Linked DNA regions of Homo sapiens. The protein of the gene in region 1 purifies or fractionates together with the protein of each later gene. This does not show direct contact. Each region holds a gene or a part of one and is shown on either strand. Other genes may lie near its edges.

The links.
Region 2: the proteins of NRBF2 (region 1) and PBLD purify together in Homo sapiens (affinity purification with mass spectrometry; one large-scale study listed by BioGRID and IntAct). This does not show direct contact.
Region 3: the proteins of NRBF2 (region 1) and GALT purify together in Homo sapiens (affinity purification with mass spectrometry; 3 studies listed by BioGRID and IntAct, with this or other methods). This does not show direct contact.
Region 4: the proteins of NRBF2 (region 1) and CPVL purify together in Homo sapiens (affinity purification with mass spectrometry; one large-scale study listed by BioGRID and IntAct). This does not show direct contact.
Region 5: the proteins of NRBF2 (region 1) and NAA25 purify together in Homo sapiens (affinity purification with mass spectrometry; one large-scale study listed by BioGRID and IntAct). This does not show direct contact.
Region 6: the proteins of NRBF2 (region 1) and SFRP2 purify together in Homo sapiens (co-immunoprecipitation; one large-scale study listed by IntAct). This does not show direct contact.
Region 7: the proteins of NRBF2 (region 1) and PGK1 purify together in Homo sapiens (affinity purification with mass spectrometry; one large-scale study listed by BioGRID and IntAct). This does not show direct contact.

Annotation. Positions count from the first base shown.
Region 1 is NC_000010.11:63,146,828-63,150,327, forward strand, and holds part of NRBF2 (nuclear receptor-binding factor 2), read left to right. Parts: intron 1-3,400; exon of another isoform or gene 3,401-3,500. UniProt on the Homo sapiens protein: May modulate transcriptional activation by target nuclear receptors. Can act as transcriptional activator (in vitro). Involved in starvation-induced autophagy probably by its association with PI3K complex I (PI3KC3-C1).
Region 2 is NC_000010.11:68,294,929-68,298,428, reverse strand, and holds part of PBLD (phenazine biosynthesis-like domain-containing protein), read left to right. Parts: intron 1-1,443; coding exon 1,444-1,543; intron 1,544-2,064; coding exon 2,065-2,163; intron 2,164-3,500.
Region 3 is NC_000009.12:34,645,407-34,649,474, forward strand, and holds the start of GALT (galactose-1-phosphate uridylyltransferase), read left to right. Parts: upstream 1-1,268; 5' UTR 1,269-1,298; coding exon 1,299-1,380; intron 1,381-1,682; coding exon 1,683-1,852; intron 1,853-2,085; coding exon 2,086-2,161; intron 2,162-2,250; coding exon 2,251-2,299; intron 2,300-2,425; coding exon 2,426-2,555; intron 2,556-2,708; coding exon 2,709-2,765; intron 2,766-2,927; coding exon 2,928-3,050; intron 3,051-3,355; coding exon 3,356-3,488; intron 3,489-3,591; coding exon 3,592-3,675; intron 3,676-4,003; coding exon 4,004-4,068. UniProt on the Homo sapiens protein: Plays an important role in galactose metabolism.
Region 4 is NC_000007.14:29,136,538-29,140,037, reverse strand, and holds part of CPVL (probable serine carboxypeptidase CPVL isoform b precursor), read left to right. Parts: intron 1-3,500. UniProt on the Homo sapiens protein: May be involved in the digestion of phagocytosed particles in the lysosome, participation in an inflammatory protease cascade, and trimming of peptides for antigen presentation.
Region 5 is NC_000012.12:112,074,284-112,077,783, reverse strand, and holds part of NAA25 (N-alpha-acetyltransferase 25, NatB auxiliary subunit), read left to right. Parts: intron 1-1,994; coding exon 1,995-2,106; intron 2,107-3,019; coding exon 3,020-3,109; intron 3,110-3,500. UniProt on the Homo sapiens protein: Non-catalytic subunit of the NatB complex which catalyzes acetylation of the N-terminal methionine residues of peptides beginning with Met-Asp, Met-Glu, Met-Asn and Met-Gln. May play a role in normal cell-cycle progression.
Region 6 is NC_000004.12:153,780,091-153,783,087, forward strand, and holds the end of SFRP2 (secreted frizzled-related protein 2 precursor), read right to left. Parts: intron 1,666-2,997; coding exon 1,361-1,665; 3' UTR 501-1,360; downstream 1-500. UniProt on the Homo sapiens protein: Soluble frizzled-related proteins (sFRPS) function as modulators of Wnt signaling through direct interaction with Wnts. They have a role in regulating cell growth and differentiation in specific cell types.
Region 7 is NC_000023.11:78,114,248-78,117,747, forward strand, and holds part of PGK1 (phosphoglycerate kinase 1), read left to right. Parts: intron 1-3,064; coding exon 3,065-3,168; intron 3,169-3,500. UniProt on the Homo sapiens protein: Catalyzes one of the two ATP producing reactions in the glycolytic pathway via the reversible conversion of 1,3-diphosphoglycerate to 3-phosphoglycerate.

The DNA.
Region 1 (3,500 bases):
TTAGCTTTCATTTCAGTATGAATTTTAGAATTGTTAGCTTCTTATCAAAGACCTAATTTTACCCTAGTCAGTCAAGCAACCTAGCATATGTTGAATTCAGAAATAGATCTTGGGGGCCTGTTTTGCTTAGACCAGTTTCTGTTGGCTGAGTAACCAAAAAACTTTGGGTCCTCGTTAGTGTAGTGGTAAGTATAAAAATAAAAATAAAAAAATTTAAAAATCTTTGGGTAAAGGATGTTTTACTCATGCCTCATCCAAAATGAGTGCAAGTCACCTTTCTTAGGGCAAACCCTGAAGTCTTCTGCTGGCAGGCATGTTCCTTTCCCTCTAGGCCAGTATGATGATCAGAGCCATATTCTTTCTTGACAGAGGCTGCCCCTCCCTTGTTATTTTACTTGTGAAATACAGACTGCAAGGTGGGCAGTAGATTGGATAAGTCTTCTTACTACAGTGGTTTTTGCCTGGAAGTTGGTAATTTTCAGAGAAAATTAAAATTTTTTTTTTTTTTTGGAGATGGAGTCTTGCTCTGTCGCCCAGGCTGGAGTGCAGTGGCACCGTCTCAGCTCACTGCAACTTCCCGCCTCCTGGTTTCAAGTGGTTCTCCTGCCTCAGCCTCCCGAGTAGCTGGGACTACAGGTGTGTGCCACCACCCCCGGCTTGTATTTTTGTAGAGACAGGGTTTCTCCATGTTGGCCAGGCTGGTCTCGAACTCCTGACCCCATGATTGACCCGCCTTGGCCTCCCAAAGCGCTGGGATTACAGGCGTTAGCCACTGCTCTCAGCCTTTTTTTTTTTTTTTTTTAAGTTCTGGGGTACATGTGTAGAATGTGCATGTTTGTTACATAGGTATACACGTGCCATGGTGGTTTGCTGCACCCATCAACCTGTTGTCTACATTAGGTATTTCTCCTAATGCTATCCCTCCCCTAGCCTCCCACCCCCGCTTTTTTTAAAAAAGAAATAGTTTTGCCACTCAAGTGTACTGGAGTTATCTGCTGTAGGGCCAAGCATACAGTAGATATTCCATAAATCTTTGGGTGTTTTTATGGTGAGAGGGCTTTGTACAGTATTAAACATGTCAACTAGTGCTCTTTAAATCTTTCCTAAACCATATTTTGTTATGAATCAGATTGTTAAATCTGTAGTCACTACAAAGACGATGTACCATGTTTAACTATTTAAGAAAACCATGTTTTATATGGATTCCCTAGTGAAACAATACCTTATGTAACCCAAAATGGTCATGGTTACATATATATAACATATGTTAAGTGGAGTGAATCAGCATATGTTAGGCACTGAGCTATGGGATGTTATGAATATATAAAGAGAAGGAAATTTTAGTTGTAACCTAATCCTTGTCTTTGAAGACTTAAAACTGATGTTGGGCTTCAGTTAACCACTCCCCACTCCAGAAAAATACGGCAAACTGTTAGATCACATTAGCTTAAATTATAGAGACAGAACTTAATGTGATTAGTAAATCCCACTGAGTTGATTGGGTTTCCAACTTGTGTTTTAGAATGGAGTTGAAAGTTGACGTGGTTGAAATGAGCTCACTTTTTGAAATTGACTTGCATCTCTAGGGCTTATAACTGGTCTTGGAAGGTATGGGTTAGGTGTATTCTGAAAGGAAGCAACTTATTATTTGGAAATCATTTTAGAGATGTGACAAGGAAAGATCAACATCTGAGAAAGACTAATAGGAAGGAAAGGCTGAACTGAGAGAATTTAAGGGCAAACAGAGGGGACCTGGGTGTCCACCTGTCAAAGATCAGAGGAGATTCTGAGACTAAAAAACTTACCGTGAGATTACCTAGCTAAGGACTTTATAGCCTCTTTGTAGTGTTTGTATTGTAAATGTGCTGAAATAAGTTGCTTGATGTCTCTTGCCTTTTGAGGAAAGGTAGGATCTACTCTTGAGGTGGACAATGGCTGAATTAAATGAAACTGAGCATGTGAGCATTCATTTGCCAGATAAGCACATCCCTAAGTGAATTTCTCTTCTTTCATACACAACAAAAGAACAAAACCTGAAATAAGTTAATAGCCATTGGCAGTGCTTAGAACTCAAAGTGAGCATTTCAGAAGATGAGCAGGCCCCAGAGTACACAGTATTTGGATGGATTTGATGAATATTTTGTTTGAAAACAAATCTTAACCTAAGCCTTTTGAAACTGGTAACATGAAAATGATTCTATCCTTATTCAGAGGCAGTATATTGCTGCACTTTGTATGCGTTGGGACCAGTTTAACAGATTCCTGTTAGAAGAGTAATAGATGTTACTATTTTTTGGTTTTTGGTTTTTGTTTGAGACAGAGTCTTGCTCTGTTGCTCAGGGTGGAGTGCATGATCTCAGCTCACTGCAACCTCCGCCTCCCAGGCTCAAGTGATTCTTCTGCCTCAGCCTCCCAAGTAGCTGGGACTACAGGCATGCGCCATCACACTTGGCTGATTTTTGTATTTTTTGGTAGAGACAGGGTTTCTACCTTGGCCTCCCAAAGTGCTGGGATTACAGGCGTGAGCCACTGTGCCCGGCCCAATGTTGTTATTTTAAGATATTCTTCAGATTTCCTTAGTTCCTTTATTGTATCATTCGCTTAATATCTACTTTAAATTTTAGCCTCGTGTCATAATTAAAGGAAGTAGTTTAACGAGGATTGTTAGCAGTTTTTGAGATACTCTGTTTCTAAATTTCTGTGTTGCTATACTTTTGTTTCTATTGTGAGTCTGTGGAAGAAATCCATGAACATGGAATCAGATTTAAAATAATTTTTTTCTTTAAAAATAACTTTAAAATGCCCCACTTATAAGATTTAAATGTGGGGAATACTTTAAATGACAGTATGATTCTTGTTGAATTCTTTGTGCTTTGGGATATCCTTCTGTAACCTCCTTTGTCATATACAATTTCAAGGTTCTACAAAGGGTGGCATTTCAGTTGGCTAAAGCTTGGTTTTGTGAAAACTATTGTTTGTTAAGAAAGTGGATTTAAAGCAAACTATAGTTCAAACAGGGAGACAAATATATGCAGGCAAGATGGAAGAGATGTCTAAGAAAATGTGTCTACAGTGTATCAGAGCGGTAGCAGAGCAGTTAGAATGTCTCCACAGATTTTTTTTTTTTTTTTTGAAACGGAGTCTTGCTCTGTTACCCAGGCTGGAGTGCAGTGGCGTGATCTCGGCTCAGTGCAACCTCCACCTCATGGGTTCAAGCGATTCTCCTGCCTCAGCTTCCCTAGTAGCTGGGATTACAGGTGCCTGCCACCACGCCCAGCTAATTTTTGTATTTTTTTTTTTTTTTAGTAGAGACGGGGTTTCACCATGCTGGCCAGGCTGGTCTCGAACTCCCGACCTCAGGCGATCCACCAGCCTCAGCCTCCCAAAGTGCTAGGATTACAGGTGTGAGCCACCACACCCGGCCGTCTTCACAGATTTAAACATGAACAAAAGGAAAAGAAATAGTATGCAGCTGTACAGACATACTACAGGAAAAAAAG
Region 2 (3,500 bases), 5.1 Mb from region 1:
TCTCCAACTCCAGGGTTCAAGCGATCCACTCTCCTTGGCCTCCCAAAGTGCTGGCATTATAGGCATGAGCCTCCCAAAGTGCTGGGATTATAGGCATGTGCCTGGCCAGTTGTTACTATTGTCCACATTTGCAAAGCCCTCATTCTTTTTCTTTTTTCTTTTCTTTTTTGTTTTTGAGACAGGATCTTGCTCTGTCGCCCAGGCTGGAGTGCAGTGGCACAATCATGGCTCACTGCAGCCTTGACTTCTGGGCTCAAGAGATCCTCCTACCTCCGCCTCCCGTATAGTCTGGACCATAAGCAAGCACCACCATGCCTGGCTAAATTTTTTATTTTTATTTTTTATTGAGACTGGGGGGTGGTCTTGAACTCCTGGTCTCAAGCAATCTTCCTGCCTTGGCCTCCCAAAATGCTAGGATTACAGGCATAAGCCACCATGCCCAGCTAAAGCCCTTACTCTTTTTTTTTTTATTTAAATCTTTTTTTACAGAGACAGAGTCTTACTATGTTACCCAGGCTGGTCTTGAACTCCTGGACTCAAGCTGTCCTCCCGCCTCAGCCTCCCAAAGTGCTGGGATTACAGGCGTGAGCCACCATGCCTAACTAAGCTCTCATTCTTAATCACTGTACTGTTTATTAGGTATATTGTGGTCTTAGGATATTATATGATCTCTCCGTTTAATTTCTTCATTTGTAAGGGTATAAAAATATTTACATTGAGGGTTTTAAAAATGAGATTAAGTGAAATAATGTACTTATTTTTTCAACAAATGTTTACTGATCTCCTACTGTGCTGGGATGAATACCAGGCATTGTTCCAGGTCCCGGCAAAGCAAGACAGCACAGTCCATACCCCAACAGAACTTAGAATCAGAGGTGGCGAGGCCAGACAGTAAAGGGCACACCAGGCAATTTCAGGACATCTAAGCACTGGAGAGGAGACAACACCTTTAGACACAGTGGTCTGGGAAGGCTTACTGGAGGAGGTGACCCCTGGCCTGAAGCCCTTCCCATGAAAGAGAGTGAACCATGCAAAGACAGGGGAGGAGTGGTCCAGCCTGCCCAGAGTGAGTGCTGAACCTCGCTTTCACCAGCAAAGCAAAGGAGATTGGGGTACTTCCTTGTGTGGAGATTGTTTTTAGAAGACAGCACACTCTGTCAGCTAGACTAGATCTTACTGTGACAAAAGACAGGCCAGGCCAGCCAGTTTTTCACAGTCTATTCCAGCTTGCACATTTATAACCCTTCTTCACAGGGCACTGCAAGCATGGGTTTCTGAGAACCAATCTTTATAAAAGTGCCTTGAATTCCTTGGTAATTATTTCCTTTTAAGCGTGTAACTCTTATTATTGCTAAACTGCTTTTTAAGTTAATGGTAGTTGTTGTCCAAAGGAAGTCTGATCTGTGTTTTTGAAACCTCAATGATCGTCTGTTTCTAATTAAGGAATTGGATGAAGACATGCATCAGAAAATTGCAAGGGAGATGAACCTCTCTGAAACTGCTTTTATCCGAAAACTGCACCCGACAGACAACTTTGCACAAAGTAAATATGCATTTTTTTTTTTTAAGAACTGTTCTGTCGCACGGGCTGGAGTGCAGTGGCATGATCTTGACTCACTGCAACCTCCGCCTCCTGCGTTCAAGCAATTATTGTGCCTCAGCCTCCCGAAGTGCTGGCATTATAGGTGTGAGCCACCACACCTGGCCTAAATATGCACTTTAAAATAATTCTTGAATGACATCAGAAATTATTTTTTAGGTGGGGGAATGATCTTTAAGGAAAATGCCCCCTTATTATTTGCATGCAGATAGTAGATAGAGCGGGAGATTCTGATTTGGTTTCGGTTCATTTGGGGAAGGGGGTTTTGGTGAATCTGAATGTTTCCATTCCAGATCTAGCACTGGGGAGCCCTAGGATGCTTGCCTAGCCATCATTCCTCCTTTTACAACATGTTTTGGCTACTCATCATGCTAGAGAACTATATAGGAAAGAAGAAAATGAGAAATCTGTGACCTGCTTGCATGGGAATGATCTCATCTCTCTTTGGCTTTTCCTATCCTCAGGTTCCTGCTTTGGACTGAGATGGTTTACACCAGCGAGTGAGGTCCCACTCTGTGGCCATGCCACCCTGGCTTCTGCAGCTGTGCTGTTTCACAAAATAAGTAATGTGATTTTCTTTAATGAATCTAACACTTAGCAAATGGCTTTTTTTTTTTTAAGTTCTCACACACACTTTTTCTGATGGTCCAAAGTGACTGGTATAAAGACTCTGCAGAGTTTACTTCATGCTATTCATAATGCAGAAACAAAACCAGCGACCTTCAATAGCACTTTGGCCTTTCTGAGTATGTGCCCAGCATCATTGGAAAGCTGCGATCAGAATGCTATTTTATTTTATTTTTATTTTATTTTACTTTCTGGTCTACAAAGAATTTGACAACCATTTTATTTTATTTTATTATTTTTTGAGACAGAGTCTCACTGTGTTGCCCAGGCTGGAGAGCAATGGCACGATCTTGACTCACTGCAACCTCCGCCTCTCTCCACCTCCTGGGTTCAAGCGATTCTCCTGCCTTAGCCTCCTGAGTAGCAGGATTACAGGCGCCCACCACCACACCCAGCTAATTTTTGTATTTTTAGTAGAGATGGGGTTTTACCATGTTGGCCAGGCTGGTGTCAAACTCCTGGCCTCCAGTGATCCATCTGCATCGGCCTCCCAAAGTGCTGGGATTATAGGCGTGAGGCACCATGCTTGGCCTCATTTTAAACTGGAGATCTCTGGTCTTTGTGAAGCTTGCATGGGCAGAATTGTCATCTCATACGATATGAGATTGGAGATCAACAGGAACATTTCACTCCAATTATTTCCGCTCCCACATTGAAATTCATTTCACAATAAGAGATTCTTCAATAAACATTTTTTTTTTTTTTTTCTGAGATGGGGCCTGGCTCGGTTGACCAGACTGGAGTGCAGAGGCAGGATATCAGTTCACTGCAACCTCTGACTCCTGGGCTCAAGCCATCCTCCCACTTCAACCTCCAAAGTAGCTGAGACCCCAGGTGCACACCACCACACCTGGCTAATTTTTGTATTTTTGTTAGAGACAGGGTTTTGCTATGTTGCCCAGGCTGGTCTCAAATTCCTGAGCTCAAGTGGTCTGCCCACCTTGGCCTCCCAAAGTGCTGGGATTACAGGCATGAGCCACCACGCCCGGCCAATAAGAGCTTCTTTGCTCTAAATTTGAAGATTCCTGGGCCCCCACTGTATACATTCACCTTAAAAGGAGTTGCAGCACCTTAATTCTGCCAGTTTCTATCTTAGCTGCATTTAGTTTAATGGACAAAGATCAGGGCCTTGTGGGGATGGGACAGAGAAGAGATTCCTGGGAAATGCCCTAAAACAGGAGATGGAAGCAGCCACAAACAAGCATAGACAGCAAACGGAAATGGAAACAAGGAAAGAAACAGGATGATAGGACAGAATGTCACTGTGGGGGAT
Region 3 (4,068 bases), on another chromosome or scaffold:
CGCTTGAACCTGGGAGGTGGAGGTTGCAGTGAGCCAAGATCACGCCACTGCACTCCAGCCTGGGTGGCAGAGTGAGACTCTCTCTCAAACAAACAAACAAACAAAAGTACCAGGGGAGGAATTAATTTGAATTTTATCCTAGTGTTAGCCAATTGGTCCCATCCAAGGAAAATTTAGAAAAGGGAAGGGGATGTGTAAAGGAAACACTAGGCCCCACCTAGATGGTGGCTGGAGCTTCTGATAGTCCTGTACTCTCCACATTTTTAGACTTTCTTGTACTTTTTTTTTTTTTTTTGTGACGGAGTCTGCTCTGTCGCCAGGCTAGAGTGCATGGGCACAATCTCGGCTCACTGCAACCTCTGCCTCCTGGGTTCAAGTGATTCTCCTGCCTCAGCCTCCCGAGTAGGTGGGACTACAGGTGCACGCCACCAAGACCAGCTAATTTTTTTTTTTTTTTTTTTTACTAGAGACGGGGTTTCACCATGTTGGCCAGGATGGTCTCAATTTCTTGACCTTGTGATCCGCCTGCCTTGGTCTCCCAAAGTGTTGGGATTACAGGCGTGAGCCACCGAGCCCGGCCATTTTTAGATTTTTTTTTATAGCCCTTTTACCCCTCCCACTTCTTGTGCTGTCTTGGTGTGTGTATGAAAAAGAGAGAGAGAGAGAGAGGAAGGAGAGCAAGAGTGAGAGAAAAAGAGAATATGGTTACTTAGCCCTTTTTCCCAAATCTGTTTTTGCTTTTGGGGATAGGATATGGTTATGGTGAAGTACTCCACACAGACCCCACCAAGTTTGCCTCTCCTGCGCTACAGCCACTGAGCAGGTGACTGAGGCGCTGTTGATCCAGGGTCATATCCTTACTCGCCCTAGAATGTAAGCTCAGGCAGGGCAGAGGCCATGCCTGACATGTGCATCCCAATGCTTTACACAGCCTAGGTGCCTAGCACATGCTAGATGCTTGGTAAATATTTGCTGAATGAAAGATCAAATGAATGATTGCAGCAAGCAAGTCCTGTAGGCATCCTGGAGCCCAAGGATTCTGCAGTAGGCAGCTTTCACAGAGGTTCTTCCAGTGTAGTGGCTCTAGCTCTGGGTGAAGTAGGATCATCAATGTCGGCCCCCAGGGTTCACAGCTGTTCTGAGCCCCGCCCCCAGGTGGCAGGGCAGCCCAGTCAGTCAGTCACGTGCTGGCGGCTGGCCAATCATCGGGGGCGGCGCGGGGAGGGGTGGTGTGGACGGAGAAAGTGAAAGGTGAGGCACGGCCCTGCAGATTTTCCAGCGGATCCCCCGGTGGCCTCATGTCGCGCAGTGGAACCGATCCTCAGCAACGCCAGCAGGCGTCAGAGGCGGACGCCGCAGCAGCAACCTTCCGGGCAAACGGTAACTGCACCGCGGCAGGGACTCGCTGGGGCGCGGAGCCGAGCCCTCCCCTTCCTTAGGAAGCTTTCGTCCCCTCCGAAGGTTGGAACGCTCATCCCGAGCCAGACCGACAAGGCGTACAGTCTGCAGGCCTGTACGAGCAGCAGGCCAATTGGCGCTGGGAAAGTCCAATCCTGGGCCTCTAGCTCCTGAGCGGGACAGGGCCGAGAGGGCGCTCCCGAGCTTGGGCCTGCTGGTGGGTGAGACCCAGGAGAGAGGGAGCTAGAGAGCTCTGAGGACTGATCTTGACTGTCTGCCCCCAGACCATCAGCATATCCGCTACAACCCGCTGCAGGATGAGTGGGTGCTGGTGTCAGCTCACCGCATGAAGCGGCCCTGGCAGGGTCAAGTGGAGCCCCAGCTTCTGAAGACAGTGCCCCGCCATGACCCTCTCAACCCTCTGTGTCCTGGGGCCATCCGAGCCAACGGAGAGGTAAGCCTGTAGAGCCCTGCATCTGCAGGCTGGGCCACGGGGAGTAGTTCCCTCTTAGAACTGTCCTCCACCCACAGGGATAGTGAACCTCCTTCTGGGTCATATCCCACCAAGCTTTTTGGTCCCCTAGGGTGGGCCTTCCCTACTCCCTTGTAGCCTGTCCAGTCTTTGAAGCCCACCAGGTAACTGGTGGTATGGGGCAGTGAGTGCTTCTAGCCTATCCTTGTCGGTAGGTGAATCCCCAGTACGATAGCACCTTCCTGTTTGACAACGACTTCCCAGCTCTGCAGCCTGATGCCCCCAGTCCAGGTAACCTGGCTCCAACTGCTGCTGGGGAGGAGGGTGGCTAGACCTCTTGAGGGACTTCTGCTGCAGAGAGTGATACTCCTTTACCTCAGGACCCAGTGATCATCCCCTTTTCCAAGCAAAGTCTGCTCGAGGAGTCTGGTAACTATGGATTTCCCCTCTTACAACTTTCAAACCAGAGTTGGAGACTCAGCATTGGGGTTCGGCCCTGCCCGTAGCACAGCCAAGCCCTACCTCTCGGTTATCTTTTCTCCCGTCACCACCCAGTAAGGTCATGTGCTTCCACCCCTGGTCGGATGTAACGCTGCCACTCATGTCGGTCCCTGAGATCCGGGCTGTTGTTGATGCATGGGCCTCAGTCACAGAGGAGCTGGGTGCCCAGTACCCTTGGGTGCAGGTTTGTGAGGTCGCCCCTTCCCCTGGATGGGCAGGGAGGGGGTGATGAAGCTTTGGTTCTGGGGAGTAACATTTCTGTTTCCACAGGGTGTGGTCAGGAGGGAGTTGACTTGGTGTCTTTTGGCTAACAGAGCTCCGTATCCCTATCTGATAGATCTTTGAAAACAAAGGTGCCATGATGGGCTGTTCTAACCCCCACCCCCACTGCCAGGTAAGGGTGTCAGGGGCTCCAGTGGGTTTCTTGGCTGAGTCTGAGCCAGCACTGTGGACATGGGAACAGGATTAATGGATGGGACAGAGGAAATATGCCAATGATGTGGAGGCTTGGAGGTAAAGGACCTGCCTGTTCTTCTCTGCTTTTGCCCCTTGACAGGTATGGGCCAGCAGTTTCCTGCCAGATATTGCCCAGCGTGAGGAGCGATCTCAGCAGGCCTATAAGAGTCAGCATGGAGAGCCCCTGCTAATGGAGTACAGCCGCCAGGAGCTACTCAGGAAGGTGGGAGAGAGCCAAGCCCTGTGTCCCCAAGGAGTCCCTAACTTTCTTATCCCATGAGAGAGGTGTGTAAAGGAGAAAGCTAGAGGTGAACTAGTAGAGAGAGACTTGCTAGGAGGCCTTAGCAATAATCCAGTAATCTAAAGGAAAGATGATGGTGACTTAGACTCGGGTGGTTAGTGGTAGAGGTGGTGAGAAGACATCAGATCCTGGGCACATTCTTTTCTTCTGCTTCCCTTGCCTATTTGCTGACCACACTCCGGCTCCTATGTCACCTTGATGACTTCCTATCCATTCTGTCTTCCTAGGAACGTCTGGTCCTAACCAGTGAGCACTGGTTAGTACTGGTCCCCTTCTGGGCAACATGGCCCTACCAGACACTGCTGCTGCCCCGTCGGCATGTGCGGCGGCTACCTGAGCTGACCCCTGCTGAGCGTGATGGTCAGTCTCCCAAGTAGGATCCTGGGGCTAGGCACTGGATGGAGGTTGCTCCCAGTAGGGTCAGCATCTGGACCCCAGGCTGAGAGTCAGGCTCTGATTCCAGATCTAGCCTCCATCATGAAGAAGCTCTTGACCAAGTATGACAACCTCTTTGAGACGTCCTTTCCCTACTCCATGGGCTGGCATGGTGAGGCTTTTCAAGTACCTATATTTAGCCCCAACACCATTTCTGGGCTCCTGGGGCTCAGCCTAGTGAACTGCAACCTCAAAGGAGCAAGCCTTGAAACAGTTGCTGGGGGAAGTGGCCAGAGTAGAGATGCTGGGACTGAGGGTGGAGCAGCAAACTTGGTGAAACTACATCTCCAATGTGCTTTCTAATCTCCTGCCAGCTCTTCTCAAGCAGGGGATCCTGGGAGATGTAGTTTTCAGATACCTGGTTGGGTTTGGGAGTAGGTGCTAACCTGGATAACTGTAAAAGGGCTCTCTCTCCCCACTGTCTCTCTTCTTTCTGTCAGGGGCTCCCACAGGATCAGAGGCTGGGGCCAACTGGAACCATTGGCAGCTGCACGCTCATTACTAC
Region 4 (3,500 bases), on another chromosome or scaffold:
GAAATGTAGAACGTGAAATAAAGATGAAGCCATTCTGAGTCATGTGCAGACCGTGGGAAATATCTCCCTGTATTTGACAAAAGGGGAAATGGCAGCCATAGCTAATTCTGAAGATGAAAAGTGTTCCTGCCTGGGTTACTTGATGAAGAATATTATTAGCAATCAGCAAGTCAAGTGGAAATAATTTGTTTTGTTTTGTTTTCTCCCCTTCTAACTATTGGCATGTTGGTAGAATTAACTTGGCTGGCAGGAGAATGAACCGCCTGTGCCGTTGGGACACAGGAGATTTCTGAGCTGGCAGACTGCACACTCCATGTAAAACCATGACTCTTTCCACCATTCTTGTGTACACGTGTGCCTGAACATTGGTGTCTGCAAAATCCGAGACGTCTGTTTCAGAGAAAAATTGCTGGAAGCCACTGATTTAGAATTTTAATAGGATTTTTAAAAAATCTGTGCTTAAAAAACATGTAATTTAATCAGTGTTGTAGCCCCCCTGCCCCCCCAAGAATAGCCTTTCTTAGGTTTCTTAGGTTGTCTTACGAACACTGACAGAAATGTGTAGGTTCAGGGCACCTAGAGCAGATGTGGAAGTTCTTTCATTAAGGTAGCCTGCGTGAATCATCCCTGTGACTCAAAGCCTGAAGCAGTTTTAGCCTGATCTCCTTGGCTGCATTTTTAGAATCTTAGACATTCCAAGCTGAAAGGGATTTTGGGAATTATATAGTCCATCTAATCTCCAGAATTTACAAATGAAGGAACTGAAGTCCAAGGGGAGAAGTGAATTGGCTTGCCCAAGGATATACCTGTTGGCAAAGTGAAGGCTGGAACTTTTGACCTTGTACATTCAGGAATTGTGGCAGAGCCTTTCCTGCTCGTCTTAGAATGTAATGTACTATAGGGAGCCCGCAGCCATCCTCTACGGTCTGGCTTTATTGTCTCTTTTCTCCCTATTTTTTAGTCTCCTTCTACCTTTTCTCAGCACACCTTTCAAGTGGGATGGAAGTTGAAACCCACTCAGCAGAGAATATGAGAAATACATGTGTAATGACACAAAGTTAGGTGTGTTAGCATTATGTCCAGCAAAGGAGGACACATACCCAAAGGTTGGGAGAAGTGGGAAGAGGCCTCTGAAATATTTGGCCTTGTGCTGAATGAGTCGAAGGAGGGATCAGGGAAGAGGTACCCGCTGGATTAGCTGCTGCCAAGTGCCCGTGGCAGCTCAGGAACTTAGACTCTCAGCAGTCTCTGTTCAGGAGATGGGAGGGACAAAGCGCTATCATTGGTAAGAATACAGCAGTTGCTCAGAAAAAAGGACTGTCCATCATACTGCAGCTGCAGAGTGGCCTTGGGTATATAGAAACATTGTTAATGTTCTGTTGGGAGCATCTTAGACTGATTAGCAGCAGAGCTGATTTTCACTCCCAGGGATCTGGGTCTCTCTCTTTCTCGGTTAATGGCACCACTGTCCACCCACCCAGCCATCTAAGTCACATCTGGGATCATCCTAGATTCTTTGTTCTATTTCAACTCTAATATATAATCACAAGTTTCTTCCAGTTTTACTTTCTTCTTCTTCTTCTTATTATTATTATTTGGAGACGTAGTCTCGCTCTTTTGCCCAGGCTGGAGTGCAGCAGCGTGGTCTTGGATCACTGCAACCTCTGCCTCCGGTGTTCAAGTGATCCTCCCACCTCAGCCTCCTGAATAGCTGGGATTACAGGCACATACCACCAAGCCTGGCTAATTTTTGTATTTTTTTGTAGAGACAGGGTTTTGTCATGTTGGCCAGGCTGGTCTGGAACTCCTGACCTCTGGTGATCTTACCCACCTTGGCCTCCCAAAGTGCTGGGATTACAGGCGTGAGCCACTGCTCCCAGTCAACCTTCTAATTATTTTTAAGTCTGCCCTCTCCACGCTATTATTACTAGTTTCCAGCCCTAGTTCAAACTCCTGTCATCTTTATTCTAGATTATTGTGAAACATATTAACTGGCCTTCCTGCCTGCTGTCTTTCTGGCTTAAGTCCATCCTTACATTGATGTTCATAGTACTCTTTTCAAATTATCAAGCCCTTCAGTAGTTCCTAGTCACTAGAGGATAAAGATTCTTAGCATATCTAGAAAACTCTCCCTGATCAGCTCTCTACTGACTTCTCTAGATTCCATCCTATTTCTCCACTTCCTACTTATGCTTTTCTCCTGCCTCTGTATTGGTTATCTATTGCTGCATAACAAATTTTTAAATGCTATAAATTCTATGACCTCCCAAAATAGTGATATAGGCGTTAAGAAGAAATTATTTGGGCAGATAGTGAGAGTACAGGAGTCCTCGGTAAGGTTTTCCTTTTAATGAAAAGCAGACCCCAAATCATTTTCTTTTCTAACAAAGAGCAGCCTGCCTATAAAATTGAGCTACACACATAGACAAGTAAGCTGGAAGCTTGCACAGGTGAATGCCGGCAGTTGTGCCAATAGGAAAAGGCTACCTGGGCTAGGCATGTTCAAAATGGCAGCTCCGTCTTCCCTTTTCCTTTCCAACCATGTGTACAGTAGGGAACAGACAGTAATGCTGGCCAAGTGGAAAGCCCATTTGCTTAATAAGGTTAGGGTGAGGTGGCCAGCTTCCCTGCATGCTATGTAAATGTCACACCTGGTCCAGCCAATCTGTGGGCCAATCTTTGTCTATATAAATCAGACACCACCTCCTCAAGCCTGTCTATAAAATCTGGTGCACTCCACGGAGGGCCAGATTTCCCATTCAGATGCCCCTCTCTTGCAAGAGAGAGAAGTGTTCTCCTTTCTCTTTCTTTTGCCTACTAAACCTCTGCTCCTAAACTCACTCCTTGTGCGTGTCCATGTCCTTAATCTTGGCATGAGATGGCGAACCCCAGGTATTTACCCCAGACAGTGATGCCACCTCAATAGGAGAGACAGCAGCACATGAGGGAAGTATAGAGGGATTCATTTAATTAGGAGTTAAAGTCAAGGTTGGAAACTAGTTTGGAGGTTTGCAGTAGTCCAGGCAAGTCACAATAAAGAACTGGATTAGGCCATGAGAGTAGATTTAGAGAGGTGAAGGTGAATTTGAAGAACATCTAGGAGATTCAGTTGGTGATTGATTGGCTGTGGGAATGCAGGGCCAGAGAAAAATGGATAAATAAAGAATACATCCTGGATTTCTGGCTTTAGTACTTGAGTTGATGGGAGTATTTCCAACCAAGATGAAAAATAGGGAAGTAAGGACAAGTTTAGGGAAGGAGATAATAAGTTTAGTTTTTGAGTTCTTCTTAACTACTTTTGATTTTTGTCAATATAATAAAAGTAATGTTATAATTCTCATGATAAAAAATTTTAGTCTTCTTCTCCCCACCTCCCCATCCTTCTCTTATCTCTGAGACCTCCTCTCATACTTTTACCTGTCTGTTCTAGCCTTTAATTCCAAATTTCCAAGTAATCTGCCTAATCTGTTTCTTGATTTATTGGTTTTAGGGTTACACCT
Region 5 (3,500 bases), on another chromosome or scaffold:
TAAATTAATTAATGCCCCTCTAGTCAGGATTTGTACTCTGTAGATACCGCAAACATTCCTTCTTTATTTGTATGTCTGTCTTATGAAGGCATTTGAGTTTGTGACCTCTGCTGTGCATACTCTTATACCCATACTTTATTTTTATTATTTATTTATTTATTTTAAAGAGATGAGGTCTCACTGTTTTGCCCAGGCTGGACTTGAACTCCTGGGCTCAAGTGATTCTCCCATCTCAGCCTCCCAAGTAGCTAGGACGACGGGCACACACCACCACACTGGGCTCCATTATTTCTTTCTTTCTTTTTTTTTTTGGAGACAGAGTCTCACTCTGTGGCCAGGCTAGAGTGCAGTGGTGCGATCTCGGCTCACTGCAACCTCTGCCTCCTGGGTTCAAGTGATTCTCCTGCCTCAGCCTCGTGAGTAGCTGGGACTACAGGCACACACCACCACGCCCAGCTAATTTTTGTATTTTTAGTAGAGACGGGGTTTCAACATGTTGGCCAGGCTGGTTTCAAACTCCTAACCTCAAGTGATCTGCCTGCCTCTGCCTCCCAAAGTGCTGGGATTACAGGTGTGAGCCACCACGCCTGGCCTCCATTATTTTATTATTATTATTATTATTTTAACTAAATAGTATTTCCTAGAGATAAAGTTCACTACCTCACTCCTTTAATAACTGTCCAGTGTTCCACAGTGTGAATGTAGAAATTTACTTAACCAGTTTTTGATGGATATTTAGGCTACTCACAAGAAACTTCTTGTTTTTTTTTGTTGTTGTTGTTGTTTTTGAGACAGGGCCTTGCTCTGTTAGCCAGGCTAGAATGCAGTGGCATCATCACAGCTCACTGCAGCCTTGATCTCCTGGGTTTAAGTTATCCTCTCACCACAGCCTCCTAAATAGTTAGGACTCCAGGCGTATGCCATCAAACCTGGCTAATTTTTATATTTTTTGTAGAGGTGGGGTCTCAATATGTTGCCCAGGCTGGTCTCGAACTCCTGGTCTCAAGCGATCTGCCTGCTTCAGCCTCCCAAAGTGCTGGGATTACTACAGGTGTGACCTGTCAGGCCTGGCCCTTTTTTTTTTTTAAACTACATTATAGCTCTATGGATAGTAAAAAGTTAGATTCTCAACAGGAAATTCATAATGTAATTTTTGGTATCCTTAATCTGCTAAACAGTTGGGCAAATCTAATTTGGTCAGAACTATCATCCTAGTTTTTTTGTTTTCAGTTGTTTGGAAAGATTTGATTCCTCTCCACTCTTTTTTGTCTTCTTCCAACATCTCATCTTTCTTAGCTCATGTCAGCTCAGTCCTCTTTGATGTTTTGGAACTGTATGGATGGGCAGCTTGTCTATGGACTAAATTTACTAGTCCCTAGATGCTGTTGGGATTTTATAAGTATATCCCATGTACTATTAATAGATGTTCAACCCAATACATTGTGAAACCTATCCTTTTACAAAGAAAATGATTATAAAAATTTACTGTCAGTAATGTACTTTTTTCTTTGAAGTAAAATAATCTTTAATAAGATAGTAGTAGTTTGTATGTAATAGTGGTCCCATTTTCTAAGAGAGTGAATAAGAAAATGTGACATTTAGGCCGGGCCCGGTAGCTCACAGCTGTAATCCCAGCACTCTGGGAGGCTGGGATGGGTGGATCACCTGAGGTCAGGAGTTTAAGACCAGCCTGGCCAACATGGTGAAATCCTGTCTCTACTAAAAATACAAAAATTAGCCAGGCGTGGTGGCAGATGCCTGTAATCCCAGCTACTTGGGAGGCTGAGACAGGAGAATCGCTTGAATCCAGGAGGTGGAGGTTGCAGTGAGCCAAGATCGTGCCATTGCACTCCAGCCTGGGTGACAAGAGTGAAACTCCATCTCAAAAAAAAAGAAAAGAAAATGTGACATTTTCCTTCTTGTGGTTGGACTCTATTCTGGTTATTGAGCAGAAATGAAACCAGCTTACCAACTTTTATAACTTTTGATTTTAGAGAAGTTGACAAGTGAGATTCAGAGTCGGGAAAATAAATGCATGGCTATGTACAAGAAGCTGAGCAGGTGGCCAGAGTGCAATGCCCTTTCCCGGCGCCTCTTACTAAAAAAGTGAGTAAAAGCTTTCTTTTGTACCATTTGACTGTAGTGAGGCTTTAAGACCTCACTATTGATTTTCTTGGTGTCTGTGTTTTGAAGTTTCTGGGCATAAAGTCTTCTTATAGTAGTTGTGTCCTGCATGTTTCTAAAAGTTTTTAAGGAGCCTTCATCTTTCAGTAGAGTATTATAATGGTACTTGTAGGCTGGGCATGGTGGCTCATGCCTATGATCCCAGCACTTTGAGAGGCCAAGGTGGGCAGATCACTTGAGGTCAGGAGTTTGAGACCAGCCTGGCCAACATGGCGAAACCCTGTCTTTACTGAAAATACAAAAATTAGCTAGTTGTGGTGGTGCGTGCCTGTAGTCCCAGCCCCTCGGGAAGCTGAGGCACAAGAATCGCTTGAACCTGGGAGGCAGAGGTTGCAGTGAGCTGAGATCATGCCACTGCACTCCAGCCTGGGTGACAACAATGAGACTCCATCTCAAAAAAAAAAAAAAGATACTTGTGCCACCATGGTGCTGAATTCTAGTTAGGGCTTAAGAATGAACACTGAAAATCATTAATTTCTCAAATTCAGTATTCCCCTAAAAGAGAGAGGCTTCATTCTTTGCTACAACACTTCTCTCCCCTTCCCTCTATTTTGGAAGTGCTTATGTGGGGACTTTTCTGTTATGAATATTAGTTTTCTAGACCTGGTCATTTTATTGAAGGAAAGAGTAGTTTACTACTCTTTACAAATACAAAGTAGTATTACTTTGAAAATGCCCTTTTAGATTTGCAAAGGAAACATGGAGTGGGTGGGGGTAAGCCAACCTACTACATACTAAAATATAACTTACAAAATAAATTGAATATCATGGTTCCTAAGGAAGATCTGTCACAACTTGGGTTTAATCCTGTGTGCATCATTCAATCTGATTTTAGCTCAGATGACTGGCAGTTCTATCTGACTTATTTCGATTCTGTCTTTCGACTGATTGAAGAGGCCTGGAGTCCTCCTGCTGAAGGTGAACAGTAAGTTGTCTTCTTTCCTGAATTATAACAGCACTTTTTAATATAGTGTAGTGAAAGGATTTCATTATAAGCCAATTGAATTCTCTTTTTCTGTCTCAATAAAGTATTCCTTTCAAAGTAAGACATTTTTTCATATTTTTTAAAGTATAAAATACACAAGTTCATTCTAAAAATCATGTTAGTGCCAAAATATGTGGTGTGCTAATTTCCACTTATCCTACCATTCCAAAAATAACTCTTGTTAATAGTTTGGTGCCTTTCCGTGAGATTTATTTCCATCTTTATGCTAAGATAATTTTTCTTTTTCTCCTTTTTTTTTTTTTTTTTTTTTTTGAGATGGAGTTTGGCTCTTGTCACCCAGGCTGGAGTGCAATGGCACGATCTTGGCTCA
Region 6 (2,997 bases), on another chromosome or scaffold:
CAGATGTCTGTCTCTCCTTTTTTACCCTAGTTCAAGTTTTCACCATCCCCTTCCTCCTCCTTGCATTCCAGTGGATACTCTCCAAATCATGGCTCTCTCTATCTGAGGGTTAGATTTGAGTCGGGGAAGGAATTAACATTTTTGCAGTGGTGATTCTTTTTCGGTATGAAAAATCTCAGGAAATGAAAAGCACAACTGTAAAGCTCATAAACCTTAAGTTTAGGGTAATGTTTCCACATAGCTGCAGCTGGACTGCTCAGAAGGGTCAAAAGAAGGCAACCCCTTTCTAGAGGCTGCAAGTCGCTGCTTCCACAGGGTGAAAGTGGTGAAATCTGTGAGATGTGGGGCATGGTGGTGGAGGGGGAGACACTTTCTGAGTCACTTGAGAAGTAGATCACTTTAAACTGCTGGAGGGCTGGGCTCATGGAAGGAAGTGACCACCCATACATAGCTCCATTCCCAGTTCCTTTTACTAAGAAGACAAGACAGAAGACAAAGAATAGGTAAAACAGGATGTAAAGTTTATATACAAGAATATAATGTTTATCTGAAATATTTACAGTGTTGGTTAAAGCAATATTTTTACAACTTTTAAAGGTAAACTACTATGTATATTACAGGTAAGCTACAATGGGTTTAATTTGCAAAAGTTAAGTAAGAAATGTTTTAAACAAGGCTTAAAGTACTCAAGTCAATTATAAAATTTATATCTTTTGCCTTTTACTTGAAGAAATCATGCTATAGAAATGGTTAATGTGCTTCTAATAAATGGAAGTATTGTAGCTGGAATGTGATACATGTAACAGTTTAAGTTCCCATTGAAGGTATAAAATGATGAATTGTTGTAAGACTTAGACACTGAGTCTCAGTCTGGAGCTGATGAAGATGTTGAGATAACAGCCAGCTTTATCTCAACAGGGTTTGTGACCCACAAGTTTGGGCCACAGAGAAAATTGAAGCAATTTGCATGTTATGACAACCTCAGTGGGAAGTGAAAATCAGCTGACTCAAAACAACAAACAACAACCAACCAGACCCAAGTCACAGTTGCACCTATTCAAAACTAGCTTTAAAGTGAGCTATTTTTAAACTTCATAAAAATATTCATGATTTTATTAGTTTGAATATTTCTACAAGATTCGGGTGGGCTTTTCCTTTAGGTGAAAACAGCTATCCACTCCTGTGGCCTTATAACTCAGGAAATGCTGGGGATGCAAACGTGCAAAAGGCAGGGGGAAGCTGCCCAGGCTGAGACTGGAGCAGCTAGGAGTGTGCTTGGGGAACGGGAGCTGAGATCCCGGAGCAGAAATGGTCAGCCGTGCTCTGGAGCAGGCCTGTCGGAGCCATCAGGATGCCGGGACTAGCACTGCAGCTTGCGGATGCTGCGGGAGATGCGCTTGAACTCTCTCTGCCCCTTCTGCCACCGCTTCACCGAGGTGATCACCAGCTCCCCACCCTGTTTCTGTCCCATGACCAGATAGGGCGCGTTGATGTCGTTCATCTCCTCACAGGTGCACTGCAAGCTGTCTTTGAGCCACAGCACCGATTTCTTCAGGTCCCTTTCGGACACACCGTTCAGCTTGTAAATGGTCTTGCTCTTGGTCTCCAGGATGATTTTGGTATCTCGGTTGATGTAGGTTATCTCCTTCACTTTTATTTTCAGTGCTATGAGGGAGGGCAGAAAGAGTCATGCCAGTTATAATGAGGGAATACAGTATACCTCCCCCCATTCTGCCAACTCGTGTGACTTGGCCTGGATGAGGAAAGAGAGGCTTCCTAGAGCTAATGGGACCCTCAGAGGCTGCAGATCGGGGGTTGGGAGCTAGGGGCAGCAGGTGGCTCCACTGCTAAAGCCTCAAAGCATTTGCCAGGCACTTGGTTTCCAATCAGCCATTTTTTCAAAACTCTCTCTTTGCGGGACTCAATTAACTTTTCTTCTCCTTTCCTCACTCACCCTTGTGTTTGTAAGAAAGTTGCATGTGGTGTGTGCTCTCTCCAACAAATGACTTCCTCTGTTGGAAACTTAAGCATGAAAAGAAATGCCTGACTTTTAGGTGAAATATGATCCCTCTGTGGCCGTAAAGTTTAAACTCAATTTATTATGCAAGAGGTTTTTGGACAAACCTGTAAGGAAACTGTGTCACGCAATCATTGTTTTCTAAAGATCAGATTACAGGGAAGGAGAATTGATCTTACAGCTGCATTTGATTTGGTAAAGCAGGAGAAACAATATGCAAGTCTCTTTTTAACAGCACAACGTGGTTAGTCATAAAAGTGTTTTTCTGAAGACCTCATCCTTATATGCTCTCATTTGCCAGTCCAAGGCCAAGGCGTTTACGGATCATATATGTACTGTTTCCAAAATGTATATGTAGACTCGTTAGAATGCGAAGACCAAAAGTAAGTGGTTTACTATAAAGGACACGTTTTATAGTCATGAACAGTATGCTCTGGGAAAGAAAGCCCTACAAACGTGTATGCTGGAATTAAATTTCAAGACTCCATGAAAGCAGGAAAAGAATAGAATTTTAAGGTTAGAAGGGATCATCCCATTAAAATTGCTTGTTAATACACAAAGAATCTTAAATCCAGAGAAGTTTAGTGACTTGCATGAGGTCACCCAGTTTAGGTTGTTTGCTAGAACTCCAGTTGCCAAACCTCCTCCTGTAATACCACTGTGGTGTCTTGAGGCAATGTCCATGTTTTTGTAGTGGTTGCAGCATAAACTTGCCCAGCTGCAATGTGTCCTAAGACCCTGTGTGCCCCTGACAGCTATTCTGTATAGATGATGTGTAAGTATGACTTCCTGACTTTGATGGAGTTTAATCTATGTTTAAATTAGTAATAGAGGAAGATTTTTCTGTGTTGCGTACAACTGTTTTTGAGATTTTCTTTTTTTTTTTTTTAAATATCAGAATGGGAATTTGACTGAGTATGGCTTTCTAGTCAACCAGGAAATTATAGAATCTCTAGCAGGTAAATCAAAAATGCTATGAC
Region 7 (3,500 bases), on another chromosome or scaffold:
TTAACTTAGACACCTTTTATTGAAGCATACAATGCCGACACAGCTTGATGGGTTATCTCAAAGTAAACACACTTGTGTAACCACCACCCAGGTCAAGGAATAGAATATTACCAGCATCCCAGAAGCCCTCCTTCATGTTCAGGTGGTGTTTAAATATGTTTGAAAAATATGTGAACACCTTTGAGGTGAAAGAGTATTCAGTGAATATGATGGTCATGATGATGTCACCTTGGATTTAAGGCATTTTCTTAAGATGTGTAAAGTATGTTCCTTTAAATCTCTCTTTAAGATAGAGGTACAGGTATCGACTTATTTCATAAAGAAACTAAGTCTCAAAAAAAAAAAAACTTAAGTTTCTGAAAGGCAGTCATACGATTAAAGTTAGAGGCAGTGGTGCTGTTGGTCTTTAGAGCTCAGCCCATTCAATCAGCAAACTTTTTCTATAAATGGCCAGATAGTTAATATTTTAGGCTTTCTGTGTTGTGCAGTCACTTCCATCTGCATATAGTCTCTGTTGGAACTACTCACCTCTGCCGATGTTGTGCAAAAGCAGCCATAGATAACTCACCAAACAGATTACTGTGAACTGACAACCAGAATTCAAATATTCAATGATAAAACTGGCTCTTTGCAGATGATTTTGAATTTGCCCATTGACTAGAAAGGAAGCTGAAGGCATTTTTTAGTACTTTCCACTATTCTGGTCTTTAGTATCTCGGAGAACAAGATGCTCTGAGTCTAGTGTCTCAGTCTCCTTTGGCTTCTCACATTTATTAAGGTCATTGGGAGTGCCTGCTTTCAAGCAGTTTCTTTTTTTAGCACCAAAGATGCTGGTCTTGCCTTATCCTGCTTTTGGCATGGTCTTGCTGCAGTATTAGGAGTCAAATGCTGACCTAAAATTTGGTGTCCTTTTAATCTGGAACTCATGATGCATGAACTCTAGGGCTTAGAAGTGGCAGGAGGCAAAGGGCATATTGAAGCAAAACTTTTTATTTAGGAAATGATGAGCTGACTATGTAGTCTATGACTTTTTTAGTAAACTGACTTGACATTCACTATCTAATGGCTTTTAATACCTGAAATTTCAGGAGTCAGTCCCAAGTTCAAAATGGATTAAAAAAACAGTGAGGCTGGGTGCGGTGCCTCATGCCTGTAATCCCAGCGCTTTGGGAGGCCGAGGTGGGTGGATCACAAGGTCAGGAGTTCGAGACCTGCCTGGCCAACATGGTGAAACCCTGTTTCTACTAAAAATACAAAAAAGTCGGGCATGGTGGCAAGTGCCTGTAATTCCAGCTACTCCGGAGGCTGAGGCAGGAGAATTGCTTGAACCCAGGATGTGGAGGTTGCAGTGAGCCAAGTTTGCAGCACTGCATTCCAGCCTGGGCAACAGAGCAAGACTCTGTCTCAAAAAAACCACAAAAACAAAGTGAGGATATGAGGACATAAACATTTTCCCTTTATCCAAAGTGCCCACATTGATCTTTTAAGGGCCTTCTCTTTCTTCTAGTTATTTGCAGATCAGTAAATGAGAAATGGGTTCTGATTGATATTATTTCCATGGCACCTTTTTTCATGAAGAGCTTTCAATTTACCCTGTTTTTCCTTAAATATCTTTTTAAAGAGACAGGGTCTTGTTCTGTTGCCCATGGTGGAGTGCAGTGGCATGACATTAATTATTGCAGCCTCAAACTTGAGGGCTGAAGTGATCCTCCTGCCTCATCCTTGTAGGGAGCTAGGACTACAGGCACATACCACCATGTCCAACTGACCTTTACTTTTTTTTTTTTTTCCTGGTAGAGACGGGGTCTTGCTATGTTGCCCAGGCTCATCTCGAACTCCTGGGCTTAAGTGATCCTCCCATATTGGCCTCCCAAAGTGTTGGGATTATAGGTGTGAGCTACTGCCCCTGGCCTCCTTAAATAGTTCGTAAATGGAGGGGTTATTATGCCTTTTTGATAGAAGGGAAAATTTCAGAGCAACTTCCCAAAGGTGACACAATGAATTAGTGTCAGAGCTGGACATAGAACTCAGGTCTCCTTACATTTGAGCATTGTTATCATTACTACATGTGTCATCTTCCAATCACTAGTGGCAGATGTTATTGTAGTCTACAGAGCTTATGGGAGTGCCACAATCTTCAATTTTAGCATTAGTGCCTCTGCAATTCTTTGGATCTTTAGGGAAAAGCCCCATTTTTTATGGCAGTCCCCTTCACCTCCTTGATACATAGGAGCATAGGAGTGGGCAGTGACTTAAAATGAACATCTGCTTTGTGCTATGTACTCTTCTGTGTCCTGTCCCCTTTCATCTGGCTTGCTTCCTGTGCCTCTTTGCTTAATCTCCTGCCAGAGACTCTCTGGTTTGCTTATCCTCCCATCTTGCTTTCTGTCCCCTTTGGGGTATGCCTTGATGGCAAGCTGACATTTTAAAGCTCTATGTTTAACTTCTACATTTTCTTCCTCTCTTTTTGTAGAAGTATATTTCTTGTTTTCTCAGATGCCTAGCTTCCAGAGAAGGTCATAAAATACCTTTTTGTCAATGTGAAGTGTTTCTGAGGTTCTTTTCTGTTGTCATGTTTCCATCTGCCTTCTCTGTCCCAGCTTGCCCTTGTTGCTTTTATGAGGAATATGTGTGAGAGCCCCTTGCACTTCGCAGAAAGGCCTTGGTAGCCAGCAGCTTGAGTCAAGTATGATACTATCACAAGGAGAATGTTTAAAATGAGGAACTAAGTCAAGGAGAGGGAAGGATAATCAGAACCTTGAGCTGAAGGCTGGGGAGAGGCTAGTGGGGTGTGGTTAACTTCATGTGATTAGAGGTAAAGCCATCGTTCAGGAATATTAGGTTTGCAATTTGAGGGAAGTTAAGGGAGAGCAGAAACATGCAGAAATGACCAAAGTATCTGGAATATTTGGAAGAAAGAACACATCCTACTGCTGGTTGTAAAAAATCGCTGTCCCACCTACTCAGGGTCTTTAGAGATGTTCAAGAGGACTCTTGGTGTATGAAATGCTTTTATAGTTGTCTTTGGAGCCATCACATTTTCTGTTTTTGTTTTTCTCTATAGGTTAAAGCCGAGCCAGCCAAAATAGAAGCTTTCCGAGCTTCACTTTCCAAGCTAGGGGATGTCTATGTCAATGATGCTTTTGGCACTGCTCACAGAGCCCACAGGTACCAAGAACCTTGTAGACTACCACACTGAGAACAGTATTCCTATTTACTTGAGTAGCCCAAGCTCTGGGTTGTTTTTGGAGAGTTTTGTATTATACTGTAATCCTTTCAGCTTCTCTAATTGGAACTGCCACTATGGCTCTTGTTGAGTAGCTCTCATCCAAAGAGGAAATAAAGGTAAAAAAATGTTGGTAATTGTAGGGCTTTTTGTGGAGTTTCAGGAAGAGGTTGCTCTTTCTCACCTTAGATATTTTGTACAGAGTTATCCTTTTATGAACGTTATAAGATCAGACTCTCATGCTGTCAGTAGGAAGCAAATTGAGGAATCCTCT